Linked DNA regions of Homo sapiens: region 1 is linked to region 2. Evidence: fine-mapped expression QTL. A gene starts in region 2. The other region holds a variant in brackets. All regions are shown on one strand. Distances are from middle to middle.

The links. PIP is the estimated chance that this variant, and not a neighbour inherited with it, causes the effect.
Region 1: its variant is fine-mapped to the expression of NUDT7 in prefrontal cortex (BrainSeq, PIP 0.95).

What each region holds. Positions count from the first base shown.
Region 1 is chr16:77,745,995-77,761,805 of GRCh38, forward strand. LOC107984878 (a long non-coding RNA gene) reads right to left here. Exons shown (of 6, transcript XR_002957866.2): 5 at 11,393-11,458. Among named protein-coding and RNA genes, the nearest start is that of NUDT7, 31 kb to the left of the region's middle. The variant T/A (reference allele first, on the strand shown) is at 7,457.
Region 2 is chr16:77,712,987-77,728,797 of GRCh38, forward strand. It overlaps NUDT7 (nudix hydrolase 7), which reads left to right and starts at 9,528. Exons shown (of 4, transcript NM_001105663.3): 1 at 9,528-9,631; 2 at 12,445-12,598. The coding sequence starts at 9,597. RefSeq lists an enhancer at 9,366-9,660 and a silencer at 9,374-9,503.

The DNA.
Region 1 (15,811 bases), 33 kb after region 2:
TGAGTACATGCTATTATTACTCCTATTTTTAGATAGGAGACCTTGAAGATCAGAGATGCTAGTTTTTTCCTCATTGTCACACAGTTCATAAATGGCAAAGCCAACATCCAAACCCACATGCCTGAGTTTCATAGCCCATACTCTTTCTGCTATAACCACATACTTGAAGATGAGGCAAGAATAGAAGGTTAAATTTACGTCTCCCTTGAGTCACCACATATGAAAGGGAAAACAATTCCAAGTTAATAAACTAGAGAGAGTACAGCATTTATTTTTTCCTTCATCATGTCCTCCAGCTTATTCAGCTGGTGCTGCACACAGTGAAATGAGTAATTAGCCAGGATGATTTTGATTAAAATGGAACATACCAATTAATAAATGAAAGTGCTGGCATACTTGCTAATTTAACAACTTGTTCATGGTGCCAGCTTTCCAGTTAAAGGACTGAGAAGGGAAAACGTTCCTCCACCTCTTAGACAGGATGATTAGATATTATTCAACTGTTCATTCTTGTTAACAGTTGCTTTCGTATTTGAGAATAGCATGAAGTTTTGTTAAAATTGCTAGAGTGATCATCTCCCAGTCCAGTTGTCTCAGATGTGACATACTTGGTGTGGTTCCTAATGGGACCTGTGTGTATACCCAATTAAGATTTTTTTAAATTATTTATTTATTTATTTATTTATTTGAGATGGAGCTTGCTCTGTTGCCCAGGCTGCAGTGCAGTGGCTTGATGCTGGGACACTCCAACTTCCACCTCCTGGGTTCAAGCAATTCTCCTGTCTCAGCCTCCTGAGTAGCTGGGATTACAGGTGCGTGCCATGATGCCTGGCTAATTTTTGTATTTTTAGTAGAGACGGGGTTGCATCATGCTGGCCAGGCTGGCCTCAAACTCCTGACCTCAAGTGATCCTACCATCTCGGCCTCCCAAAGTACTGGGATTACAGGAGTGAGCCACTGCACCCGGCCTGTTAAGAATTTTTCATTGCCCTCCCATCCCCACTCAGCCACCTCCCTGGGCCACGCCACATTGAACACAACTCAGAATTTATGAGCCAATTTCTCCATGCACACTTCTTCAACTACCCCTTACTTTATGTTAATAGCATGGACACCACTTCATTGCATTCCTTTGCATATCTGTATAATACATGTGTATCTCTGTGTTTATTCCAGACCTAACCCTGGAAGGGACAGATCCATGCACCATAAGACCCCTCACTCTGAGTTCCCCTATCCTCAAATGAATGGACCAAGGATCAATGGCAAACCCATAGGTGGCCCCTAATTCAGTGGCTTATGACTTGTATGATCTACTTAAATACCGGATCTAAAGTCCATTCGATTTTCAAAAAACTTTGAGCAATGCCAGAAGGTAACATATGCTTGGGAAATATTTTGGCCCATGTACATACTGATGAGTGAGCCCAAGAAGTCAGAGTTTAAAGTTAGTTGGCCAATAATGGTAGAAATATGTCTTTGCTCTAAGCAGTAGTTGTCGTGTCAGGGATTTCATCAGATACAACTGGAAGAAGAATATTTCCTGAAGCAATTTATCCTTCTTAAAGATCTCATACTCAAGCCCATAAATTTTAATTTTATAGGTGTAGACTTGGTTTAATATTTCCTCAACTATAACTTTCCTCAATTTTCATTTTAAATCTTCAAGCCCTTACTCTCTACTTCATCATGGATGTCAATGACATCTCTGTGTCAATTTTTTTCTCTTTTTCACTTATCATTTATGTGAAACTTGAAGTTTTCCTTCCGATTATTTTCTTCTCCTCACTTTCTTCACGTGTTTCTTCACTCTAGTCTCATTTCATCTTCTTCCATCAGCCTTCAGTTTCAGCTATATTTCACGGATCCCAAACAGCATTCTGAAAATTTGCCTACGTTATTTTTTCTGACTATAAATCTGTATGGTCTAATATCAGGCTAAATGATAAACTGAAGATAGTGGGAACATTTTGCTAGAACTCTCAACCTGTTACAAACATATATTAACCCATCTTAGCCCCCTGTAGTGAATTGAATAGTGGTCCCGAAAAGATATGTCCAAATCCTAACTCCAATGCCTGTGAATGTGAGCTTATTTGGAAATAAGATCTTTGCAGAGGTAGTTAAGTTAAAGACCTTGAAATGAGATCATCCTAGATTTACGGTAATCCCTAAATCCAATGACTGGTGTCTTTATAAATAAAAAAAGAGGGAAATTTGAGACACACAGTTGCAAGAGACACAGGGAAGAAGCCATGTGAAGACAGAGGCAGAGATTAGAGTTATGTTGCCGCGAGCCAAGGAACACCAGGAGCCACCGGAAGCTGGAAGAGGAAAGGAAGGGTCCTCCCCACAGCCTTTGGAGGGAGGGTGATGCTGCCAACGCCTTGATTTCAGATTTCTGGCCTTCAGAACCGTGAGATAACAAATTTCGGTTGTTTTAAGCTACCAAGTTTGTGGCAAATTGTTAGGACAGCCCTAGGAAACTACACAGCCCCCTTCTGAAACATCTCTTCATTTTGAGAAATAGCTCTGCCCTCTGTCTTGGGATTACCATGGAAACAGGACATTGCTGACCTCCCAGCATAAACTCAGTTAATCAGATTTAGTCCCTCAGTAATTCCCTTGGGATTAGTACCAAGCAACAGCAGAGTCTGTCTGCCTGCCCTCCGGAAGAGAGCATATGTGGGTGTTTGTGTTCCACCATTTGCCCTGGGAAGCAGAGAAAGCTTGTCTGCAACAAGAGAGGAGAACAAAGTCAATGACCAGAATGGAAGAGCAATGAAAGTCAGTCGTGTGTTGTGAAGGCATTAGAATCCCTGGATGTTTGTTCTTGAGACCCGGATGTTTCCATGGTTTCCATGAAATGCTCCCACCCTTCGTAGTTAAATTCCCTAACGTGCTTGAGCAAGCTTAGAAAGAGTTCTATAACTTTCACTGGAAAATGTCCTAACATATCACAAACACACGTCTTTATATCCTTCTCTTTTCTCTTTTCTCACACCCTTTTACACTATGGGGACCTTAGGTTCTATTCTTTCTTAACTTAGAATGGACCTATCCACATGTAGAGTCTTCTGGAAGTGCAATATGGTATGGTAGGAAAGACTGAAGACAGAAAACCCAGTCTCCTCTCATCACTAGCTATATGACCCATTGGACAGATTAAGCCCATATGCTAATTGCAAGAAAAATTAGGAAAATAGGCATCTGACATTTTCTCCTCCACTGTGAGAGGCAGACCCGGCTAACAAGGAAGAGGATGATGGGAAACTCATTGTCTGCCACATCATGTTTATTATATTTTATTTTATAAATAGAAACAAGGTCCTGCTATGTTGCAAAGGCTGGTCTCAAACTCCTGGCTCCAAGCAATCCTCCCACCTGAGCCTTCCAAAGTGCTAGTATTACAAGCATAAGCCGCCATGCCTGGCCTGCCTGCCACATATAGAAGTAAAACTGCTCTGACAGTTAAGTATGTGAGGGGGACAGATTACTGCTTGCTTGGCTCTTCTCACCTCTCCCCCACCACAGTTGCCCCCATGACTCCTCTATAGACTGCCTTTAGGTTCTATAAGGAACAAAGAGGGACAATGGAGACCCAAGTCAACTCACTGATGTCTTTGATAACATATGTGTCCTTTGCACCTCTTCTTTGTTGGTCCAGTAAACAGAAGCTAAAGCAAATGTATCAAAGTCTGAATCAACATTCCTGGAGAAGCCTTTGGGTCTGGGCTAGCCCATGAGATAACTGTGAAGCTGTCACAAGACACCCCTGGCTACAGAGCACCTGTAATGTGGCTAGTCCAAATTGAGATGCTGTAGGAGTCAAATACACACTGGATTTCAAAGACTTACTATTGGCTACATGGTGAAATGATAATGTTTTAGAGATGTTGGGTTAAATATAGGGTGAAAATTAATTTATCCTGTTTCTTAGTACTTTTTTGAATGTGGCTACTAGAAAATTTAAATTTACATACATGGCTTACAGTATATTTCTACTGGACAGAGTGGCTCTAGATGACTCATGTGTGGCCAGGACACTAGGACACTGGAGAAGTAATGATCACCCCATGTACAGATACAGTCTGTGTCCTACCCACATCCTTAGGACCCTACCATTGCAGTGAGCTCCAGATCACTTCCAACAGCCAACATTTGCATCTGTGTTCCTGCAGGCTTTTTCCAAAGCCACAGCAGGCCAGCTGGAAGTGACAGGGAATTAATGTCCCCTACATTAACCCTCAACCAATGACTGATGGGATTTTGCATATCAGTAGCTCAGGTTCTTTGCCCCTTGGGTGGGATAATTCTGAGACAGGTGTTCTGTACTTGCTCCCAAACTGAACTAAACTCTGGGTGCCCGCTGTGGTGGCAAGTTTCACACTTCTTTTCATTGGCTGCCTTCCCTTCTTTGTCTCATTTCTCCACTCCCATAACAATGTGCCCTGTAGATTCCAAATAAATAACTTGAATCTTGTCTTTAGGTTTCTAGGTAAACCAAATTAAGACACTCCTATATCTAATCCGTCGCCAAATCGTACTGAATTTATCTTCTGAATATCTATCAAATCTAGTTCTTCTCATCTCTACCGACATCAACTTAGTTAAAGCTGTCATAAACGTCTGAAAACTTTTGCATCTATCTGGTAACTATTACCCTGCACCATCTCTCTTCTATAGCCAGAGTTATTTTTCAATATAAATATCATCATATTTTCTTGAGGCACTCAAATGGCTTCCCATTGTTTTTTATGAAAAAGATGGATGGCTCTTACAAGGCCGTGTCCTGGCTCCTGTCTACCTATCTGGTTATGTGTAGTACCATGAGCCCCCTCCCTGCTCATCCACTCCTACAGCACTGGCCTGTAGAGGCTCAGTTTCAGTCCATGGGTGCCTCAGAACTCTTGCACAAGCTGATCCCTCAATCATTTCCCTTTGCCTGGTTACCTCATACTTATTGTTGAAGGATGCCTTCTCTGACACCTTAGCTAGGTTAGTTCTCCTTGTTATAAGCTCTCTTGGTGCCATGTACCTCTACTTCATAACTCCTGTCATAGTTACAATATGATATCCCCTTGATTCTTTGATTGATGTCCCCTCATTCTCTGGACTTCAACTTCCATAATGGCACAGTCATGTCTCAATTTTGGTCCATACACAAGAGTACTCTTAGCACTTGGCACAACACTGGGTAAAGAGTAGGTGCTCAATGGATATTTGTTAAATAAAAGAGTACAACTAAATGAGAAGTAGCTATTTCTACTCAAATAGCTAATTCAGTGGGCTAAGGAAAATTCAGTCTCTTCCCAACAGACTGCTTGACAAAGGTCAACCTAAGGTGGTCTAGCATTGTTGTAAATCACCCCCTCCTGCATTTACTGTATAAGGTATATAAAGTGCTCTACCAGAGTGGACATGAGTGAGTGGCTCCTATCTTTAACCAGTTTTTGCCTTGTAACTTAGTTATTTCCATACCTAGCTGTCTTGATGTACTATGAACTACCAGAGGAGCAGACTTAGCTCTTCTTTACCCTTCTAGCCTCAATGCTAGCCATATATTTAGGACCCATGCCCCTTCATATCTACAAAAACTTGCCTTAAATCCCCATTGTAATTCCAGTGGAAAGCTCGATATTCTCCCCAAGATTTATTCAAATCCTTCAGAGAGTACCTTTCTTCTAATCACCTTAGGTTCAATTTCCAGCTTCAGTGAATGTTAGTTCTGTATTCTGCATCTTGAGGTCTTTTTCCTTAGTGCCAACCCAAATCCAGGACAGAGACTGCTTCTCCTTGTTTTTCCTAAAGTAACTTGTATGTAAATCATTGAGTGGCTTTAATTGGAGACACAGGGATATCAGCCAGGTAAACTTTGATTGCAACATAAGAGAGCCAAACTTAAATTTGAATATTATGTTTTTCTTGTTCTTTAAAAGTCCTGTCCATTCTACCAAGTTGGGTATCAGGCTGATGCTGTATTCCTCCACATGCTTGTTCTTCCTTTTTGCTTTTCTCTTTGCTCCCACCACCAAAATGACATTCATTTCCTTTTCAGAGGATGGTGTCTATTTGGCTCCATGCATCTCATGCCCACTAGGACCCACCTTCCACATTCAATAAGCTCAGCAGTGAATTTTCCTAAATAAGAAGAGTTTATTTGTGGTACATTGGTTTCAATTACACTTTTTTCTCACTCCACTGGATATTTTTTAATGAAATGACAAGGGTCAAATGAGGACAGCCTTCTAGCAAAAGCCATGGGCACTGAATTGAAAAAAACATGCTGTGCAAAACACATTTGGTGGGTGAATTCATTGATCCAGTAACGAGCTTGATGAGCCTGAGCCTGAGTTGCAGTGAGGGGGGTGAATGATAAGATCAGGAGTGGGACTTGGAGGAATAAGCTGCATTTAGGAAATGAGCAGAAGAAAGGTAGAGCTAAGGCCATGAGGGCCAGAAGAGACGACTGGGGAGCAAAGGACGTAGGTGAGGGAGGAGGAAATGAAGAATTTATACTGAAGGAACAACAAGGATGACTTTTAGGAGGAGGGTGGTGAATGGAAGAACCCTGAGACAAAGGAAGACATCACCAGCCAGGGGAGGTAGGCATTGCCCCTAGTACTGTCCATAAATATGCTCTGTAACCTTGCAGACAGAAATCACAATCTTGCTGAACCTCAGGTTCCTTACGTATAAAGCGGATTGGAACTAGTTAATCTCTAATTCCTTTTCCTTTTGAAATCTCCAATTCTGGGTTTTCCCCAGCCTCATTTAAGCATATCCAGGTAATGAAGCCATTCTGCTTAATGTTTTACAAAGGAAAAATCTGACTGAGGAAAAGAAAAGGATCACTTTTTGTCTACTGTTCGAAGCTAGCAGCATGCATAGAGTTTATTATGTGAAAATGCCATTTGGGGAGGTTAATTAAAAATTCTGACATTCAGATCAGGGATTTGGGTCAGGAATGTACAAGTCCAGGGCTCTGGGTAGAATTAGACAGGCATCTAAACGTTGAACCTTATTAAGTATATAGTTAGGCCTTAGGAGGGGGACATTTGGAAGCTAATATTCCAAACCCAAGCCTAGTTGGCTTTGTGCATTTTGTTTGAATTATGACATATTTAATAGGATTTACCTGCAGAGCCTGTGCTTAACAATCTGTTTCCTTGGCAATGCAATCCTCAAACGGGCAAAGGCCATATGGAAAACATGGGTTATTTGGTAATTTAATAAGTGAGATGAGAGGAATAGTATTTAATTCAACGTACATATTTTTATCCCCTCTATGTTCAATAAGAAAAAAAGAGATCAGCATTAAGTACATAGCATGTACTTAATAAGTGGAAAGTACAATTATTATTATCAGAAACAATTTTTGTACTATGCTTTATATTATAATAGGTGCCCAAACATGTTATGCTATTTGTCCAAAAACACTCACCAGACAAAATAA[T/A]TCTTCTTAGTAGTCCCAGAGGCGTTATGCTTCAGTTTGTTTTTCTCCCTCTTTGCTCCCTGCACTTCATCAGCAAGTTTGTTCATTCTGCTTCTGATTCACACCCTAAATGCATCCTGTCCCCCTTTCCACCTGTAGCACCTGGTCCCAGACTCATCATCCCCCTCAACCCCTTACCTCCCCTGCACCTATTCTTGCTCCTTATATGCCCTTCTTCACCCAACATCCAGAGTGATCTTTTGAAGTCATGAATAAAGTCATGCCGTTTCTTGGCCTAAAACCTTCTAGTGTCGTCCAACTGTGACTGACTTTATTTTTTTCTTTCTTTATTTTTCATTTCTGGTAGAGACAAGGTCTTGCTATGTTGCCCAGGCTGCCCTCAAATGATCCTCTCTCATCTGGCTCCCAAAGTGCTGGGATTGCAGGCGTGGGTTAGTGCGCTTACCCACCTGTGCCTGTAATAAAGTTCAACCTTTGTCTTTGGTTGACAAAACTGGCACATTGTGGACTCCGCCTACTTCTGACCCTTCTTGATCTTGGCCACTGAACTTCCTTCAGCTTGTGCTTCTTTCTCCTGTTGGAAACGCTATGCTTGCCCCCACCATAGTGCTCTTGCACTAGATGCCCCTCTCCCAGCAATTGTCTTCACCCTGGTTTTTGCATGGATGGCACTTGTTTTATCATCAGTTCTCACTACACCTGTCGTTTCCTGGAAGAGTCTAACGCTGATGTCATTCTCTCTCATGCACCCATATTTTACTTCCATATCTGGTATTTTTTGGGTACATACTTGGTTTTTTTTCCTATCTCTCACACTAGAACACAAGCTCTGTGAGTGTGGGGACTTTCAATTATATTTTATTTTCCATTAGGAATTCAATAAATAAGTACTGAGTGGATGAATGAATTAATTTGGCTGAAAACTAGATGGTCAAGGTCATTTTATTGCCAAGAAGTAGGTCAATACAAGAATGAAATCACAGTAATGATTAGGTAAAAATAAAATTCCCAAGCACTGCTACTTTAATTTGTATTATTTTTTAATACTGATGATTTGTTTCATCATGGGCTAATTTTAGTACTATTCATGCATATTTAATTATGTTTTAGAATTATTCATTTTTTTCTATTTTAAAGATTGTCTAATTTATTCTCAGCTAATTAGTCCAGCTTTATATTTGTATACATTAGGAAAAATTGAAGGCAACCTAGACACCAAACAAGTTGTAAATGGTTTAAATAAATTATGGTAAATTATAGAAAGATATATATGATTTCATTTTTGTCAGTTTTATCCATACTTCTCTATTTGTAAGGATATTCATAGAGGTGTTAAAAATTGTCTTCTCAGGGAGGAGGTTGGGATTATAATTATCACTTACATTCTTTGTTTTTTGGTAGTTTTTATTTTTGGGGGGCTTTTTTCCTAATTTTTCTACAATGTGTACACACTGCTTTAATAATCCATAAAAGTAATTTTAAAAACAAAGTTTTGAAAGGATATAAAATATAAGGACTTGGAATGTCTGAGTATGAGGAGTTTTTTTTTTTAACTTAAAAACACAAAATCCCCTCAAAACAAAAAACCTAATCCCTAAATTAAAAAAGATAGAAAGCAAAAATTCAAATTCTGAAACTAGAATTTTCAGGGACTGAATTCACCTAAGGTGATCAGAGGGAGGCCATCGTTGGCACATCTTTGGAGTACATCAGTTTAGCTGCCCAGGCCACACTTTAGTAGAATATTCATGGCTGCGAGACCATCTTCCTTCCCTTTCGTTCTCCCTCCAAGTCCATTGCTTGCGTGCGCCATAACATCACCCCTCTAACCCCAGTTTACTATATTCACACCTGCAGTAAAAAATGGCCACATATAAAACACTCTGAGAAGTTTGAGAAAGTTTTCTAAATGTAAGGAAGATATGTGAGGCTGTGGCTGCTCCCTCTCTTGGGTATCTATTTTCTTTAACCGATTCACATGGGGGCTGAGCCATGTACCAGGAAGAACATTGCAACTTGCCAGCATTGGAGTCCAGCCATGCGCAGGCATGTTGGAGCTTTGTAGGGTATCCCGCTATAAACAAGATGCCAGAAGCACAAGTCCCCTTGGGTAAAATCAACCTGAAAGGAATAAAGCCTGGGATAACAAGCTGAGTCTGGGCAGAAGAACCTGAGACTGAAAGGGAAATCATTATATAAGATAGACTGCGGTGGCTGGTATTTCTTGTACTGCTTTAGCAGTTCCTATGTGCAGCCTCAGGGGAGAAAACAGAGATCTTCATACAGATAAACGTAGGAAGCCTCTGTAGGGCTCTGAGGTTCTAAACACGTGCTTGTATTAAACAATTTTGATGTATCTCCCCAGACCATCCCCTATGACTTGCTTATCAAGACAGGAAAAAAATCGTTCATCATTGTGCAAAATTTCAAGTCCACTAAACGATCACAAGCATCCTGACCTGAAAATATGGATTTAAATTACAGAAAAATATGAGAAATTATTTGGGAAAATATTATAAATAAGAAATAGTCTGAGCCATCATATTCAGAAGACATGTGTCTCTCATTCTGCAGATTTTCAGTACAACACTAAGAGTGCGTCGTTTCATGGGACTTGTCGATTTTGAAAACCTTCATTCTCTGCCCACATTGAGTAGGCAACTATTTCTCCATGGCTTCCTCTTCCACACCCACTTCTACTAGAAACAGTTGGGTCTAAAAGGACCCAAAGAACAAATGAAATGGACGATTACATATATTCATAGAGTTCTGTCACTTGGCTTCTTGTTTACTTGTCCTTATAATCCTATGTGCCAGACTAGAATGGCAAGCTCTGTTGTACAGTGAAAGATTTGGTGAATTTCAATGCTTGCCCAAGAACACAAGGCTACTTAAGTGAGGATTGCTATTACAGAACCTATATTCCAGCCCCACTAATGTTACATTTCCCATGAAAGACCAAAAGAAGAGAAATCAGATGTGTTAAGGGCTTGGTGGTAGCTGTGTTTTTCATCTATACAGCATGTTTTCATATTGCCTTTGGCTATTGATCATCAGTGAATTTCCAAGTTATGTGTGTGGATAACATGATTTGTTAAGCATGTCTGAACTGGATCTCTGTCTCTTGCAACCAAAGGAACCCCAATATCAAATACATTTACAGCAGTGGAGAAATATAATGCAATTTATCCATTGTGCCCTGAGATTTCCAGGCCATACTAAGTTCAGAAGACCCCTATGAGTGACATTTATTTAAAAAAAAAAAAAAAGGCCGGGCGCGTGGCTCATGCCTGTAATCCCAGCACTTTGGGAGGCCGAGGCGGGTGGATCACAAGGTCAGGAGATCCAGACAATCCTGGCTAACACGGCGAAACCCTGTCTCTACTAAAAATACAAAAAATTAGCCAGGCGTGGTGGCAGGCACCGGTAGTCCCAGCTACTCGGGAGGCTGAGACAGGAGAATGGCGTGAACCCTGGAGTCAGAGCTTGCAGTGAGCCGAGATTGCACCATTGCACTCCAGAGCCTGGGCAACAGAGCAAGACTCCTCAAAAAAAAAAAAAAGAAAAGAAAAGAAAAGAAAACAACAACAACAACAAAACTAAGCAGATGATAGAATAGAAATCGACTGCTGAAGAATTCTATCATTCCCTATCACTACTTGAGGCAATCCGACAAAATTCATTAATTTTAGCTTCCAGTTAATAATAACACATCAGGAGAGAAGCTCACTAATGAACTTTTTCATTTGGAACATGAGGCGATCGATGTTTGTAGGGCATGTAGCACTCTTAAATTGACACTTATATTCAGCTAGTAGTGGGAAAATAAAGTTGTGTTTCTTGGACTAAACTCATCAGATAAATTCTCTTGGCTGTAAGTATTTAGACCTCAGGGTTAGCTAAAACTAAGCAATCAGATTATCTTGAGATACTCACATTTTTCAGATAATTGTTCCCATATAAAATTTCCCTCGTCCTCCTCTGCAGTTGATCTTGGATGAGCTAATGAGAAATGAACCATGCAATATGTTATTAATTTATTGGGTTATCCTCCATTACCCTAAAGTTGATCAATAAAAATTAAATCATTAAGGGGCCAAAGTATTTTTAGAAACAATACCCAAAACACCTGGATTATAGAATTCTGTTCACAAGTTTAAAGTCCAAAGGAAAGAATGCATCCCACCCCTACCAGCACTTCCATAAAAACAATCCTCCAGCTGGGCGCGGTGGCTCACGCCTGTAATCCCAGCACTTTGGGTGGCCAATGCGGGCAGATCACAAGGTCAGGAGATCGAGACCATCCTGGCTAACATGGTGAAACCCCATCTCTACTAAAAATACAAAAAATTAGCCGGGCGTGGTGGCAGGTGCCTGTAGTCCCAGCTACCCGGGAGGCTGAGGCAGGAGAATGGCAAGAACCCAGGAGTTGGAGGTTGCAGTGACCCGAGACCGCACCACTGCACTCCAGCCTGGGCAACAGAGCGAGACTGTGTCTCAAAAAAAAAAAAAAAAAAAAAAAGATTAAAACTTGCTACCCAAAGTTTACTTTTCCTTTCTCCTCCTAACCTCTGATGATCTTCAATAATTTAGAAAAAATGCAAAGATTTCTCTTTATCTTCTATGCCATAAAACTATAACCCAAACAATACCAAGAAAAAGCTTGCTAATATAGGGCTTGTTCATTCAGAAGCTGCAGGAACTCTGTGGCAAACTCGTATGTCAGGTCACTTTGTTCCATCTGGGACCATAAGTCCACTAACTCATAAAGAACAATAGCAGACACTGTGATTCTAAGAGAATTGGTCACTTTCATCACAGCATAGAATGACCGAAGCCTTGTGTAGATTCGTTCCATTCCTCACCGCCACTCAGCATCAGTGTAACCATTCTCAGGCAGCAGAAGAAGAGACCTGCCAAGGCTGCATAGCTGGCGATGGATAAAGGATGTGGCTCCCTTTGTGGCTGATGTTTGGCTCTTGATACCATTGCTGTCCCTCTGTAGTTATAGATCTGTATCTAGTCTCTGGATCTAGATCTAGTCCTGGATTTGGAGCTAGTCTCTGGATCTGAATCTAGTCCTAGTTCTGGATCTAGTCTCTGGATCTGGATCTAGTCTTGCTTCTAGATCTAGTCCTGGCTCTGGATCTAGTCCTGGTTCTGGATCTAGTCTCTGGATCTAGATCTAGTCCTGGATTTCGATCTAGTCCTGGTTCTCAGTCTAGTCCTGGTTCTGAATCTAGTGCTGGATCTGGACCTAGTCCTGGTTCTGGATCTAGTCCTGGTCTGGATCTAGTCTCTGGATCCAAATCTAGTCTCTGGATCTGGATCTAGTCCCCATTCTGGATCTAGTCCCCGTTCTGGATCCAGTCCTGGATTTGGATCTAGTCCTGGCATTGGATCTAGTCTCTGGTTTTGGATCTAGTCCTGGATCTGGAACTAGTCTTAATTTCTCCTCCTATTTTTGCCTTTTCCTTGCTCCTTGGATTTGCTGACTGCCCTTAGCTTCTCTGATCTGACCCTGTGGGGTCTCTTACAGGGCTGATTCATACTCATGCACCTTCCTCTACATCCTCTCTACCACCAACAGGGAGGCAAGGCCCTTCCTTCTCCACCCTCTCAGCCCTCTTGTCTGCGCAGGGCTCACTCTGCCTTCTGAGCGTTTGGGCTGTCACTTTCCCTAAGAAGATGCCCTGATAAAAACTCTGGTTCCTTTTCAGCCTAGGTTTAGCAAGTCCAATTTCTGTCCCTGGTAATATGAGCATGTTTCATTGGAGGATGAAAATCTCCATTTAGCTGGGATCACTAATCTTTCTGCAAAGCCCCATAGCACATGTATATTATCCATGATTTCGAAAAGGTAGTAAAGTTAAAAAAAAAAAAAAAAGTAACCCACATATGTTGGAGTTACACAATTCTAGTCCCATGTGGGTGTGGCCAAAGCCATTAATCCTCTAGGCCTCCATGTCCTTATCTGTCAAACAAGCATTAGGATGCCTACTCTGCAGGGTTGCTGGGAATAATGGACATAATAAAAGTGTGAGGCCTCTGGACACCTGACCAGGAGGGGCACTGAATCATTGGTGGGATGAACATAGGTCCATCCTGGGCACTTCACTCATGCCCATCTGATTTGTGTCCTTAAAACTCTGTGCACACTGAAAATCAACAAAGAAAACAGTAGAGTTAAACTACACACTCCATCTAGTAGGCCTAACTGATATTTACAGAACATTTTACTCAAATGCTGCAGAATACACGTTCTTTTCACCTGTACATGGAACATTCTCTAGAATAGACCATATCTTAGGCCACAAAACAAGTGTGTACAAATTAAAAAAAAAAAAAAACAGAAATTATATCAAGAATCACAGCTGCCTCTCCAAAACTCTTTGTTTTGATCTGTCTCATCTACATTTGGCCATTGCTATTTTATTGCTACTCAAAGTGATGTCCCTGGACAAGTAGCAACGTCCTCACCCGGGAGCTTGCAAGGAAATGTGGAGCTTCAGATTCTTCCCTGGACCTAGTGACTCAGCATCTGACTTTCACCAGATCCCCAGTGATTCCTGTGCATACTGAAGTTCGAGAAGCACTGCTCTATTTCACACTTCCTCTATAATTACCATCTGTCATTCCTGTCCTATTATATCTGTTATCTGATGTATTAGGCTCCTATTGCTGCTGTAACAGATTTCTGCAAACTTAGCAGCTTAAAACAATACAAATGTATTCTCTTGAACTTCTGGCAGCCAGAAATCTGAAATCAGTTTCTTGGGCTGAACCCAAAGTGTTCGCAGGACCGTGCTCCCTCCGGAGGCTCTGGGGGAGAATTTGTTCCTCTGCCTTCCAGCTTCTAGCACTTCATTTCTTGGCTCATGCCTCCTTTCCCCATCTCCAAGCCAGCAGTATAGCACCTTGCTTCAGTATTCACACTGCCACGTGGTCCCTCCTCTTACCATCCATTAAAAGGACAGTTGTAATTACACTGAGGGCCCACCTGCATATTCCAAGATAATCTTCCTATCTGAAGATCCTTAACTTAATCACATCTGCAATGTTCCTTTTAAGGAAACATTCACAGGTTCTAGGGGTTAGAATGTGGGTGTTTTGGGGGGCTATTATACAGCCTGTTATACCTGGGTCTCTAATTTGGCACTTAGTAGGTCTTTAATAAAAGTTGAAATTTGTATTCATTTAGTGGCTGTCACAATTAGTATATGCTCACCTGGAGATGCCTTCATGGAGAAAGGCAAGTAAATAAATTGACTATAACCTATCGTAATCCAGTATGAATGAATGTATCCCTTAGGTTTATATGTTTCCAATGGCAGGAAGTAGTTAATCTCAAAGGCTTTACAAAAGTGGTGAGCTAAGTCCTGAAAAATGATTAGAAATGCAGCAGGTGACCAAGACAGGGAGAGACATTCCAAACAGCAGAAACAGCATTTGAAAGTGCATAAAAGAAGACATGAAACAGCAAAGCCCATCCAGGGAGCTGTAGCGATTAGGTAAACTAGAGTGTATATATGAAGCCAGAGAGATCAGAAGATAAAGCAAAGAAGTCAGTAAGAATCACATTAGGAAATGCTTTGAATGACTCACCAAGGACACTGATGTTCATCCTGTAGATAGGAGGCTACCATTAAAGGGTTAAAATCAGGTCATTGACAAGGTCAGAAGTAATTGAAGAAAGGTCATTCTGGTAACAGTTTGGAGGCTATTTCAAAAGCTCAGAGCAATTAAATTAACTTTTCAGTTTATGGTAGGTGTTTGAATAAATATCTGCTCAATATCTCTCATATGCACCATCACGCTTGAACTGCTGGAGAAAAAGGCACCCAGAATAACAAAATGTTCTGTTCCAAGCAGATGCCTCTCTGATCTGAGCTGGGGGTGCAGCTGTTTGGTGGTAATCAACATGCCAGTTGCTGTTTCAATCCTTTTTAACTGGAGAGGGGACACCAGGTATTAAGTGGCAAGAGAGCTCTTAGGGCAGCAGGCCTGGAAGGCACCTGGATTCCTTCAAGATAAGCTCAGCCTGCTGCCTGCTCAGTGTTTCTCAGATTCAGGTTTGTGTTGGTCTTGGTTGTTTTCACCTCTTGGCCATTGTGAATAATGCTGCAATTAACATGAGGATACTAATATCTCTTCGAGATCTTGATTCCAATTCTTTTGGGTAAATACCTCGAAGTAGAATTACTGGATCATTTGGGAGTTCTATTTTTTTTTTTTTTTTTTGAGATGAAATGTCATTCTTGTTACCCAGGCTGGAGTGCAATGGCACTATCTTGGCTCACTGCAACCTCCGCCTACTGGGTTCAAGCCATTCTCTTGCTTCAGCCTCCCAAGTAG
Region 2 (15,811 bases):
CACTAATATCAATCAATTACAGTGCCTGTAAACCCTGGGGTATACCCTGTGATGTTATGCAATATATCCTCGTGATCTTTCCGCTAATATCAATCACAGTGGCTGTACACCGTGTGTACACCCTGTGATTTTATGCAAGACATCCTTGCCAACTTTTCGCTGATAACAATCAATCACAGTGGCTGTGCACCCTGTGTGTACACCCTGTGATGTTACGCAGAATATCCTAGAGATCTTTCTGCTAATATCAATCCATCACAGTGGCTGTACACCCTGTGTGTACACCCTGTGATGTTACTCATGCTATTCTCGCGATCTTTCCGCTAATAGCAGTCAATCACAGTGGCTGTACATTCTGTGTGTACACCCTGTGATGTTACGCAGGATACCCTCGCAATCTTTTTACTAATATCTATCAATCACAATGGCTGCACACCCTGTGTGTACACCCTGCGTGTATAATCTGTGATATTATGCATATTTATGCATAGTATCCTCACGATCTTTTTGCTAATGTCACAGTAAGTGTACACCTGCGATATTAACTATGGCATCCTGACAACCTTTCTGCTAATATCACAGTGGGTGTACACCCTGTGTGCACACGCTGCGATATTATTCATGACATCGTTGCGACCTTTCCGCTAATATCACAGTGGGTGTATGCCCTGGGTGCGCACCCTGCAATACTATGCATGATATCCTCCCGATCTTTCTGCTAATATCACAGGGGCTTTACACCATGTGATATTAGACATGATATTCTCGCGATCTTTCTGCTAATATCACAGTGACTGTTACACCCTGCGTTACACCATGTGATCTTATACATGATATCCTCCCGATCTTTCTGCTAATATCACAGTGGCTTTACACCATGTGATATTATACATGATATCCTCCCGATCTTTCTGCTAATATCACAGTGGCTTTATACCATGTGATATTATACATGATATCCTCCCGATCTTTCTGCTAATATCACAGTGGCTTTACACCATGTGATCTTATACATGATATCCTCCCGATCTTTCTGCTAATATCACAGTGGCTTTACACCATGTGATATTATACATGATATTCTCGCGATCTTTCTGCTAATATCACAGTGGCTTTACACCATGTGATATTATACATGATATTCTCGCGATCTTTCTGCTAATATCACAGTGGCTTTACACCATGTGATATTATACATGATATCCTCCCGATCTTTCTGCTAATATCACAGTGGCTTTACATCATGTGATATTATACATGATATTCTCGCGATCTTTCTGCTAATATCACAGTGGCTTTACACCATGTGATATTATACATGTGATATTATCATGTATAATATCATGTATAATATCATGTATAATATCATGTATAATATCCTCCCAATCTTTCTGCTAACATCACAGTGGCTGTACAGCCTGTGATATTATATACGTGATATCCTCGCGATCTTTCTGCTAATATCACAGGGAATGTACACCCTGTGTTCACATCCTGCGATATTATGCATGACATTTTCCCTACCTTTCTACTGATATCACAGTAGGTGTACACCCTGTTTGCACACCCTGCGATACTATTCATGACATCCTCGTGACCTTCCTGCTAATATCACAGTGAGTGTACACCCTATGTGCACACCTTGCGATGCTATGCATGACATTCTCGCGACCTTTCCGCTAACATCACAGTAGGTGTACACCCTGGATGCACACCTTGCGATACTATGCATGATATCCTCGCGATCTTTCTGCTACTATCACAGTGGGTGTTCACCCTATGATATTATGCATGATATCCTGGGGATCTTTCTGTTACTATCATAGCGGGTGTACACCCTGTGTGTATATTCTGTGATATTATGCATGATATTTTTGCTATCTTTCCGCTAATATCAGTCACAGTGGGTGTACATCCTGTGTTTACACCCTGTGGTCTTAAGCATGATATACTCCCTATCTTTCTGCTAGTATCACCGTGGGTTTACACCCTGTGTGGACACCCTGTGATATTATGCATGATATTCTCATGATCTTTCCGCTAATATCCATCACAGTGGGTGTACATTGATATTACGCGTGTACACTCTGTGATATTACACATGATATCCTCACGCTCTTTCTGCTAATATCACAGTGGGTGTACAGCCTGTGAGATTATGAATAATATCCTCGAGATATTTTTGCTACTTTCACAGTGGTTGTACACCCTTTGTGTACACCTTGTAAATTTATGCACAATATATTCGAGATACTTCTGCTACTGTCACAGTTGGTGTACACCCTGAGTGTACACCTTGTGAGATTATGCGTAATATCCTAGAGATATTTCTGCTACTGTCACAGTGGGTGTACACTCTGGGTGTACACCCTGTTATATTGTGCACAATATCCTTGAGACATTACTGCTTGTATCACATAGTGGGTGTACACCCTGTGATATTATGCCTAATATCTTGAGGGATTACTGTTAATATCACAGCGTGGGTACACCTTGTTTGTAATCCCCTCTGATATCATGCCTAATATCTTCTTCGAGAGATTACTGCTAATATTACAGGGGGTGTATCCCCCATGTGTACCTTTCCTGAGATATTATGCCTAACATCTTCTTAGAGAAATCCTACTAGTAGCACAGGGGTGGTACACCCTGTGTGTCCACCCTGTGATATTATGTTTAATATCTTCTTCAAGAGGTTACTCCCAATATCACAGTGGGCGTACTCACTGTGTGTACACCCTGTGATATTATTCATAATATTTTCGATATTACAGCTAATATTGCAGTGGATGTACACCTTGTGTGTAAACACTGTTAAAATATTCATAATATCTTTGATATTGCCACTAAAATCACAGTGGGTGTACACCCTGTGTGCATACTCCGTGATATTATTCATAATATTTTCGATATTACAGCTAATATCACAGTGGATGTACACCCTGAGTGTACACACTGTGAAAATATTCATAATATCTTCGATATTGCTGCTAATATCGCAGTGGGTGTACACTCTGTGTGTATACTCCGTGATATTATTCATAACATTTTCATATTACCACTAATATCACAGTAGGTGTACACCCTGTGATATTGTTCATAATATATTCAATATTACCACTAATATCAGAGTTCGTGTACACCCTGTGATATTATTCATTATACCTTCAATATCACCGCCACCATCACAGTGAGTGTACCCCCTGTGATAGTATTAATATATTCGACATTACTGCTAATATCACAATGGGTGTATACCCTGTGATGTTATTTATATCTTTTATATTACTGCTAATATCACAGTACTGCTATCACACTTGGTGTACATCCTGTGATGTTACTCCTAATATTTTAGATTTTACTGCTGATATCCCAATGGGTGTACACCCTGGTTGTACATCCACTGTGATATTATTTATAATATCTTTGATATAATGGCTAATATCACAGTGGGTGTACACCCTGTGATATTATTCATAATAACATGGAAGCCGTGTGTAAACATTGGATATTATAAATATCAGAGTGATATTTCATTAATATCACAGTGTGTAAACATTGTGTTAACACAGTATGTTATAAATATGAGAGCAATATTTCATTAATATCATGGTTTGTAATCACTGAGTGTAAATACTGGATATGATAAGTATTAGAGTGATATTTCATTAATATAACAGTGTGTAAACAGTGTGTGCAAACACTGATATTATAAATATCGGAGCAATATTTTATAAATATCACAGTGTGTAAACACTGGATATTTTAAATATGAGGGGGATATTTCATTACTATTACAGTGTGTAAACACTTGATGTTATAAATATCAGAGTCATATTTCATTATTATCAACGTGTTTAAACACTGTGTAAACACTGATATTACAAATATCAGAGTGACATTTCTTTAATATCACAGTGTGTAAACACTGAATAATATAAATATCAGAGCGATATTTCATTAATATCAATAGTGTGTAAACACTGAATATTATAAATATCACAGTGATATTTCATTAATATCATAGTGTGTAAACACTGTGTCTAAACACTGGATATGATAAATATTAGAGCAAGATGTCATTAATATCCCAGTGTGTAAACACTGTGTCTAAACACTGAATATTATAAATATCAGAGTGACATTTCATTAATATTTTAGTGTATAAGCACTGGATGTTATAATTATCAGAGCGATATTTCATAAACATCACAGTGTGTACACCACTGCCATTATAAATATCATGGCGATATTTTATTACTATCACAGTGTGTAAACACTGGATATTATAAATATCAGAGCCATATTTCATTACTATCACAGTGTGTGAATACTGAATATTATACATCTCAGAGCAATATTTCATTAATATCACAGTGTGTAAACACTGGATATTATAAATATCAGAGCCATATTTCATTAATATCACAGTGTGTAAACACCGGATATTATAAATATCAGAGTGATATTTCACTCACTGAATATTATAAACATCATCAGAGAGATATTTCATTAATATCACTGTGTGTAAACCCTGAATATTATAAATACCATCAGAGAAATATTTCATTAATATCACAGTGTGTAAACAGTGGATATTGTAAATATCATCACACTGATATTTCATATATATCACTGTGTGTAAACACTGGATATTACAAGTATCATCAGAGTGATATTTTGTTAATATCATAGTGTGTCAATATTGGATATTACAAGTATCATCAGAGCAATATTTCATGAATACTACAGTGTGTAAACACTGGATATTACAATTATTATCATCAGAGCGATATTTCATTAATATCACAGCGTGTAAACCCTGGATATTACATGTATCCTCATCAGAGCAATATTCATTAATATCACAGTTTGTAAACCCTGGATACAATAAATATCAGAGCGAAATTTCCCTAAAATCACAGTGTGTACATCGTGGATACTATAAATATCAGTGCAAAATTTCCCTAGTATCACAATGTGTAAATCCTGGATACTCTAAATATGAGACCGAAAATTCCCTGGTATCACAGTGTGTAAACCCTGGATTTTATAAATATCAGAGCTAAATTTCCCCAGTATCACAGTGTGTAAACCCTGGACACTATAAATATCAGAACAAAATTTTCCTAGTATCACAGTGTGTAAACCCTGGATACTATAAATATCAGAACAAAATTTTCCTTGTATCACAGTGTGTAAGCCCTGGATACTATAAATATCAGAGTCAAATTTTCCTAGTATCACAGTGTGTAAACACTTTGTGTAAACACTGGAAATTATATGTATCAGACTGATATTTCACTAGTGTCACAGTGTGTAAACCCTGTGTGTAAACTCTGGATATTATAAATATCAGAGCGATATTTCACTAATGTTACAGTGTGTAAACGCTGTATATTATAAATATCAGGGTGAAATTTCACTAATGTCTCAGTATGTAAATACTGGATATTAGTAATATCAGAGAGAAATTTTACTAATGTCGCAGTGTATAAACACTAGATATTACAAATATCAGAGCGAAATTTCCCTTGTATCACAGTGTGTAAAAAGTGGACACTATAAATATCAGACCGAAATTTCCCTAGTATTACTGTGTGTAAACACTGGATACTATAAGTATCAGAGCGGTATTTCACTAGTATCACAGCGTGTAAACACTTTGTGTAAACACTGGATATTATACATATCAGAATGATATTTCACCAGTATTACAGTGTGTAACCACTGGAGATGATAATTATCAGGGTGATATTTCACTAGTATCACAGTGTGTAACCACCGGATATTATAAATATTAGAGCGATATTTCTTTAATATCACAGCATGTAAGCCCTGTGTGTAAACACTGGATATTATAAATATCACAGCGATATTTCGCTGATATCACAGTGTGTAACCACTGGGTATTGTAAATATCACAGTGATGTTTCACCAATATCACAACGTGTTACTAGTGGATATTGGAAATATCACAGCGATGTTTTGCCAATATCACAGTGTGTAACCACTGGAAATTGTAAATATCACAGTGATATTTCGCCGATATCACAGTGTGTAACCAGTGTGTAATCACAGGATATTGTAAATATCAGAGCAATATTTTGCTGGTATCACAGTGTGTAAACTTGATACTGTAAATATCACAGCAATATTTCACTGATATTACAGTGTGTAAACACTGGATATTGTAAATATCACAGCGATATTTCACTGATATCACAGTGTATAAACTCTGGATGTTGTCAATATCACAGTGATATTTCACTAATATCAGAGTGTGTAAACACAGGATATCGTAAATATCACAGCAATATTTCAGTGATGTCACAGTGTGTAAGCACTGTGTGTAAACACTGGATATTATGAATATCACAGCGATATTTCATTAGTATCACGGTGTGTAAACACTGGATATTATAAATATAACACCGATATTTCCTTAATATCATGATGTGTAAACACTAGATATTATAAATATTGCATCGATATTTCATTAATATCATGGCGTGTAAACACTATGTGTGAACACTGGATATTAGAAATATCACAACATTTCATTAATATCACGGTGTGCAAACACTGTGTGTAAACAATGGATATTATGAAAATCACAGCGATATTTCATTAATGTCACAGTGTGTAAGCACTGTGTGCAAACACTGGATATTATGAATATCATAGCGATATTTTATTAATATCGCAGTGTGTAAGCACTGTGTGGAAACACTGGATATTATGAATATCACAGCGATATTTCGTTAATGTCACAGTGCGTAAGCACTGTGTGTAAATACTGGATATTATGAATATCACAGTGATATTTCATTAACGTAACAGCGTGTAAGCACTGTGTAAACACTGGATATTATGAGTGTCACAGTGATATTTCATTAATTTCACACGGGATATTATAAAAATCACAACGATATTTAACATCATAGTGTGTAAACACTTTGTGTAAACATCGGGTATTATAAATATCACAGCGATGTTTCATCGGTATCACAGTTTGTAAACCTTGGATATTATAAACATCACAGCGATATTTCATTTATATCACGATGTGTAAACACTGGATACTATAAATATCACAGCGATGTTTGCTTAATATCACGGTGTGTAAACACTGTATATTACAAATATCACAGCCATATTTTATTAATATCACGGTGTGTACACACTGGATATTATAAATATCATATTGATATTTCATTGAGGTCATGGTGTGTAAACACTGGATGTTGTAAATATCTGTGATATTTCATTGATGTTATGGTGCATCAACACTTGATATTACAAATATCACAGAGACATTTCATTGATATCACAGTGTGGAAACACTGGGTATTATAAATATCACAGCGATATTATATTAATATCACGGTGTGTAAACATTGTATATTACAAATATCAGCCATATTTTATTAATATCACAGTGTGTAAACACTGGATATTATAAATATCACATCGATATTTCATTGATGTCACGGTGTGTAAACACTGGATGTTGTAAATATCACAGCGATATTTCATTAATATTTCATTTCATTAATAATTTCACAAACTGCCCCACTGACCTAGGGCCAGCCACAATATTACTTTCATGGGCCCTAGCTACTTTGTTTTTGTGCACCCCTTCTTCCATAAAATAATTTTAAAGTGAATATTTTATGACTGAATTCATAAAATGACTATCATCCAAGCTGGATTCATTATTATATATTGCTTTTATTACATACCTTTTCTTCTTCTAATTTAAAAAGAAATTACAATTAAAACATTTTCACAGGTCCCTAAAATTACTGTGTGTGTCCTGTGCCTGTAAGGGAGAAGTCAGCCCTACACTGACCCCTGGATTCTCAGCTCGCACCAGGCTCCCTCACACACACTGTTCTCCAGCCCCTTTCTGCTGTCTTTGCACAAACTTTGCCCTCTTCCTTGAACACTCTCCCTTGCCTTTTTCCTCATTTATGTCCTCTATCCCGCACAGAGCATCAGAATCCCCTTACAGCACAGATCACTGGGCCTGACACCTGGCTTCTGATTCAGCAGTTGTGACATGGGCCCCAAAGTCCACCTTTTCTTTTCTTTTCTTTTCTTTTCGTCTTTTTTCTTTTCTTTTCTTTTCTCTTTTCTTTCTTTCCTTTCTTTCTTTCTTGGTTTTTGTTGTTGTTGTTGTTGTTGTTTTGTTTTGTTTTGTTTTTGAGACAGAGTTTCGCTTTTTTTTGCCCAGGCTGGAGTGCAATGGCGCGATCTCGGCCCACTGCAAACTCCGCCTCCCAGGTTCAAGCGATTCTCCTGCCTCAGCCTCCTAGTAGCTGAGATTACAGGCGCCTGCCACTGGCTAATTTTTGTTTTTTTAGTAGAGATGGGGTTTCACCATGTTGGCCAAGCTGGTCTCAAACTCCTGACCTTAGGTGATCCACCCGACTTGGCCTCCCAAAGTGCTGGGATTACAGGTGTGAGCCACAGCGCCTGGCCCAGAGTCCACATTTTTAACAGGACCAAAGTGATCCTGATTCTGCTGGTCTGAGGACCACACTTTGAGAACTACTGCTTTCAAGATGAGCTGCACTTCTATTTCCTCTACCAAGCCTCTTCTGTCTCCTAATTGGGTCACATTTCTCCTTCACACGCTCTAGAAGGACCAAAGGCCACTGCTTTATCAGTGTGATTTTTTTTTTTTTTTTTTTTTGCATTAAAAACTTCTTATCTTCTTCTTCTTATTTTTGAGACGGTCTACCTCTGTCAGGCTGGAGTGCAGTGGTGCTATCACGGCTCACTGCAGCTTCGACCTCCTGGGCTCAAGCGATCCTCCCACCTCAGCCTCTTGAGTAGCTGGGACCACAGGTGTGTGCCACCACGCCTGGCTAATTTTTTATTTTTATTTTGTAGAGATGGGGTTTCGCCATGTTGCCCAGGCTGGGCTCGAACTCCTGGATTCAAGTGATCCTCCCCTCTTGGCCTCCCAAAGTGTTGGAATTACAAGCATATGCCACTGCATCCAGCCCTGTGTGATTAATTTATGTTTCTACCATTTGACTGTGAGCTCCACGTGTCTTTTCGCTAGCTGTGGGATCTGCACCCAGTGCATACAGGTGGTCGGTGAACAGGTGCTGACAGCAGTTCCAAAAAGTTGAATGAATCACCTTAACCTTCCAGCAACAGCGAATGCGAGTGTAAAATATTATCACCTCACCAACACTGTATTTTTTTTTTTTTTAACTCTTCCAGCTCTAAATTCCACAACTCCTCCTATACCTCTTGCTTCCATAGAAGCCCAAGGAGCCCGGCAGAAACTGCTTTGAGCAACCAGGAACACCCGGCCCTAAGTCCCGCCCCGCGCCTCTCCCCACCTCAAGTCCCGCCTCTGGCTATAAGCCCCGCCCCGCCCCGATCCCGGCCTCCGATCCCAGATCTCGCACCGCCCCGCCCCCTGTCTCCGCCCCAGACACCACCCCGCCTCGTGCTCTAAGCCCCGCCCCTCTCTCTGGCTTTAGGCCGCTCCCAAGCCCAGAGCTGCTCTGCGCAAGCGCGACCGACCGAGCAGCTCCGAGGAGTCCGCCCGGAAACAAACATTCCCCAGGGCAATGTCACGACTTGGTCTTCCCGAGGAGCCAGTCAGGTAAAGGCTTTCCGGGCCCTGGCACCCCGAGCTTGGTCAGGCCCGGCCTTGATCGTAGCGGAGGCCACCGGGGCCTTTTGGCCGGGACTGATTTTGCAGCTCCCGCCAGTCCACCTGCGAGCGCCGGATGGGGGAGCACTCGCCTCCAGCAACCCGCAGGGTCCCCGAACCTTTGCACTGCTCTGGCCAGGAACAGAGCCGGCTTAAGCCAGTATGGTTTACATACACGCTGCTCCCCTTCCCAGCCGGCTTGGCTGTTCTGCAATCCGCGTCTCCAGAGTTGGACCCCAGGACCCCCGACAGTGGCACAGACCCGCAGCAGGCAGCCCCGGATTCAAGTCCCCCGGTGGCTACTTTCAGTTGTGACCTTGGGTCTGTCAGTTTCGTAAACTCTCTGAGCCTGGAGGTGACCCTGTGATCACTTGCCGGGCTGTTGTGAGGATAAAATGAGAAACGTCAAAATTGAGACCATGCTCAGAACGGGGTGGCTGCTACTGCTGTTGATACCTTGGTGATTATTCCAGCGGCCAGCCCCTAAAGTGGACAGATAACGTTTTTGCAGCCTTTTACTTTGGCTGGTTTGTCTGGTCAGTTCTGTGGTTTCCGGGTGGTTAAAAGCCACCAGCCCACAGTTTCCTTTTCTGGAGGCTGGCCTGCGTGCATCCAGATGCACTGTGCAATCCCTGTGCCAGCATTCACTGATTTTTTTCAGGCCATTTGGTCTTTGAAATACACTGCCGTTACCCAACCACATCTGGTGAGCACCCTGCCACCTAGAAAGAGGCAAAAAATAGCAAATACCTCCTGCAAACAACTGCTTATCTAATGATGGGGAGATTTATGACAGTGGTTACCATTCCCTGAGCACCAGCTGTGTGCCAGCCACAGTATATGAACTGCATCATTTAATCTTCTTAAATATCCTCAAGCCTGACACAAATGAAGATGAAACTCAGAGAAGTCATTTGTATACACTTTTTTTTTTTTTTTTTTGAGACAGAGTCTCACTCTGCCGCCCTGGCTACAGTGCAGTAGGCAATCTCGGCTCACTGCAGCCTCTGCCTCCTGGGTTCAAGCGATTCTCCTGCCTCAACCTTCTGAGTAGCTGGGATTACAGGCATGTGCCACGATGCCCGGCTAATTTTTGTATGTTTAGTAGAGGTGGGGTTTTACCATGTTGGCCAGGCTGGTCTCGAACTCCTGACTTCAAGTGATTCACCTTCCTCAGTCTCCCAAAGTGCCGGGATTACAGGCATGAGCCACTGTACCAGGCCTCCTATATACATTTGAAGCCAATTCTGGGTATCTTAAATAGCTGATTCTGCCCACTATGCAAAGCTGCCTTCCCACAGAAAAAGTAAAATCAGCTGTTCCTTTTCTAGGGCTGCCATAACAGAGTACCACACACTGGGTGTTTTAAAACAATAGAAATGGTCTCTCATGGCTATGAAGCCTGGAAGTCCAAAATCAAGGTATCGGCAGGGCCTCACTCCCTTAGAAGGCTCTGGGGGTGACCTTTCCTTGCCTCTTCCAGTTTCTGGTGGTTTCTGGCATTCCTTGGCTCACAGCAGCATCACTTCAACCTCTGCCGCCATCTTCACATGGTCTTCTTCCCTGTGTGCATCTCTCCATGTTTTTTCTTCTTTTATTTTATTTTATTTTTGAGTCAGGTCTCACTCTGTCACCCAGGCCGGAGTGCAGTGGTGCAATCATGGCTCACTGCAGCCTTGAACTCTGGGGCTCAAGTGATCCTCCCACTTCCGCCTTCCAAGTAGCTGGGAATACAGTTGCATGCCCCATGCCTAAGCTAATTTATGCTTTTTTTTTTTTTCTTTTGTAGAGACAGGGTCTTACCATGTTGACCAGGCTGGTTTCAAACTCCTGGGCCCAAGCAATTCTCCCGCCTCAACCTCCCAGTGTTGGGATTACAGGCGTGAGCCGCTGCACTGGGCTCGTTTCTGCTTCTTATCAGGACAACAGTCATTGGATTTAGAGCTCACTTTAATTACATCTGAAAAGATCCTATTTCTGAATAAAGTCACACTCTGAAGTTTGGGGTAGACATGAATTTCAGGGGTGAGGGGATACTGTTCAACCCACTATACAAACTAGCAGTAGAACACACCTGTCAAAAGGACCAAAACAAGTCCACATAGGAAGGGCACCATTTGCGGTTTTAAATCCAAATGCTTGCATATTATTGGGAAATTGTTCTCAGAATGTGTTCCCCTGTCCACAGCGTCAGTAACGCTGTCATGAGGGAGTTTGATACAAATGCTAATTCTCAGGCCCTACACCAGAGTTACTGAGTCACAGTCTGGGACTGAACCTCGCAGTCTATGTGACAGCCAGCGCTCCAGGTGATTCTGTTGCTGCTAAAGCTTGGGAACCACTATTATAAGCAGTTGAAGACATAAGAGTTTGAGAACATAAGGGCCAGCTTAACAGAAGGTAGTCTTCTAACCTTCTAACCTTAACAATGACTTTTTCATCAAACCTGTCTTCTCTGAATATAATTATGGGTTTCAAAATTCAACTGTTGCATTATTGAAAAAACATTTTACCATACTTTATGTTTCAAAGAGAACCTGTGTACTAAACTGTGTGCTTAGAAGGTTTTTTTGTCATTTTCATCTTGCGAACAACCACGCAATTTAGATAGTATCATTTCTGTCGTGTTATTGAAAAATACACAGAGAGTCAGAAATGGCAAACTCCTAAATACACAACAAAGCAGAAACAGAGGCAGGACTATAAGCTTTTTACCATAACTCTGCTTGCTAAAATGTCTGTCTGGTTTGTTTTTATTTTAGAAACAGTTTGCTAGATGATGCTAAGGCCCGCTTAAGAAAGTATGATATTGGAGGCAAATATTCTCACTTGCCATATAACAAATACTCCGTCCTTTTGCCATTGGTGGCTAAAGAAGGAAAACTCCATTTGTTGTTCACCGTCCGGTCAGAGAAGGTAGGTGGACAAAAAATTTCCTGCCCTTAAACCTCAGGACATCAGAAGACCTCACGAGATTTTGTCACTTGCACACACTTTGATGCCAAAATTCTCAAAAGGGCTTTCAAAATTGTGATGTCAGAGGCATACAACCACAAGCCACAGGATAACATGGTGTTTCTTGGAGAAGGTTTAACAAGAAAATGAAGGAATTTAGCTAGCAAGCAGTTTAAAACGCTTTCACACTAGGGTTACCTAACCTTGGTGCTATTGGCATTTGGGGCTGAATAATTCTTTGGTGTGGAGGCTGTCCTGTATAATGTGGTGTGTTTACCATCATCCTTGGCCTCTACCCACCAGATGCCAGTAGCACACACAAACACAAGCTCACACACACCTTTGTCCCTTTGTCCAGTATGCCAGTAGCACACACACCACAAATGTCTTCAGAATTGCCTACTATCCTGGCAGGATTGGGGGTGCCAAATTGCCCCCCACCAAGGGCCACTGTTTTAGACTATCCCACCCCCAGTATAATGTGAAAATACTAGAGCATAGAAGTTAACGGCCTAGGCTCTAAAGCTAGCTGTCCACGTTGAATCCAGGCTCTCTCCTTGCCAGCTGTGACTTTGGCCTCGTTACTTGCCCTCTCTGTACTTCAGTCTTTTCACTTGTAAAATGAGGACAAAATATTAGTAACTGCTTCATACAGCTGCTATGAACATTTCACAGGGTAACAAATGTAAAGCACCTATATAACCCAGGTACTTGGCAAGGAAGAATTCAGTAAGTTTTAGCTGTCATCGTTAGTGTCAAGTGACCTGTCAGACATGACCTGAAGTTTTAAGATAAATGATGTCACTTTACAGAAATAATGGGCTGGGAATGGAGTTTCTGGCTCACCCCTTGTATTGGTCCATTCTTGCATTGCTATAACGAAATACCTGAGGCTGGGTATGGTGGCTCAAGCATGTAATCCCAGCACTTTGAGAGGCCAAGGTGGGAGGATCACGAGGTCAGCAGTTCGAGACAAGCCTGACCAACATAGTGAAACCCCATCTCTACTAAAAATACAAAAGAATTAGCCAGGCATGGTGGCACACACCTGTAATCCCAGCTACTCAGGAGGCTGAGGCAGGAGAAACACTTGAAACCAGGAGGCGGAGGTTGCAGTGAGCCGAGATTGTGCCACTGCGCTCCAGCCTGAGGAACAGCGAGACTCCATCTCAAAAAAAGAAAGAAAGAAAGAAAAAGAAATATCTGAGTCTGGGTAATTTATAAAGAAAAGAGGTTTCATTGAGTCATGGTTCTGCAGGCTGTACAGGAAGCATGACACAGGCATCTGCTCAGTTTCTGGAAAGGCCTCAGGGAGTGTACCATCATGGCAGAGGGGGAGCAGGAGCAAGAGAGAGAGCAGGGAAATACCACACACTTTTAAATGGCCCCGGATCTCATGAGAACTCACTCACTATCATGGGGACAGTGCCAAGATGATGGTGCTAAACCATGCGTGAGAAATCTGCCCCTGTGATCCAGTCACCTCCAACCAGACCCCACCTCCAACACTGGGGACTCCAGTTCAACATGAGATTTGGGCAAGGACAAATATCGAAACTCTACCACCCCCACACCCGTGAGCACAGTCAGTTTCCCTTGCTGTGGGGAACTTCCAAGGAAAAGCTGGTGAAGCAGTCATTTTAAGCTTATCCAAGTACAAAAAGAAAATAAGCCATATTAACAGGCTTTTTAAGCAGAATAATGAAAAGTATTTTGTTTAAAAAAAAAATGCCAAGGAATCAGCTGGAGTTTTGTGGACGTGGAAGTAGACTTGTGTGGATTGTGTTCGGTCTGAGCCAGGCAGAAATGCCGTGAACTCAGGACATGATAGAAATCCAGGTTCCAGGGGGAAATACTTAAATGGAAACCAGGGGACCAGTGTCTGTTCCCACCTCTGCCAATAAGCACAGGAGAAGCACTTACATATATTTTTTAAAATTATCAGATATGGCCGTGTGCGGTGGCTCACGCCTGTAATCCCAGCACTTTGGGAGGCTGAGGTGGGCGGATCACCTGAGGTCAGGAGTTCGAGACCAGTCTGGCCAACATGGCGAAACCCTGTCTCTACTAAAAATACAAAAAATTAGCCAGGCGTGGTGGTGGGTGCCTGTAATCCCAGCTACTGGGGAGGCTGAGGCAGGGAGAATCACTTGAACCTGGGAGGTGGAGGTTGCATTGAGCCGAGATCGTGCCACTGCACTCCAGCCTGGGCAACAGAGCAAGACTCCATCTCAATAATGAATAAATAAATAAAAATAAATAAATAAATAAAAGAGAATTGTCTAACAAACAATAATATAGGAAATCTAGACAATACTACAAACTCAACCAACGGGGTCTCTAGTTTCTTTTGTTTCACCCAGAGCCACTTTTGCCTGTTGATTATTAAGGTCACTTTTTAAAAACTATTTAAATTTAATTCAATCTGATTGTAAACACTATCTGGCTGTAGGGGTGAGAAATTCCCTCTGGAGCTCTACTGGAGCTCTGCCCCTCACACAAGCAGGGCGCTGGTAGGAGATTTCCCCCCAGTGGATGGGGAAAGCAAGGCAAGAAGTGGGTTAACCCTTCTCAAATGTGCAATCTCCCACTAGCTCTGGAACCTCGAACAAGTTTTTCTTTTTTTTCAGAAGGATTCTCGCTCTGTCGCCCAGGCTGGAGTGCAGTGGCGTGATCTCAGCTCACTGCAACCTCCGCCTCTTGGGTTCAAGCAATTCTCCCACCTCAGCCTCCCAATTAGCTGGGATTACAGGTGCACGCCACCACGCCTGGCTAATTTTTGTATTTTTAGTAGAGAGGGAGTTTCACCATGTTGGTTGGCCAGGCTGATCTTGACCTCCTGATCTCAGGTGATCTGCCCATCTTGGCCTCCCAAAGTGCTGAGATGACAAGCGTGTGCCACCACGCCCAGCCTGCAAAGTTCGTAAATCTCTTAATCACCTCGGTTTTCTCATCCCTAAAATGGGCCTGAAAACAGCGCCTCATGTGCAAGGTTGTTCTGAGCCTGAAAGAGATCTGTAAAACGCCCAGCACGGCTGCTGGCATGCCATAGTGCTGCATGCTGTTGGATGCTACCTATGTTTTCGTTATCTCCTTGTCCGGGTCCACCTTGGATAAGGGACTCCTCTCAGAACCCTAGATCCCTGGTGCCCAGCAAAGAGCTGGCAAACCCCT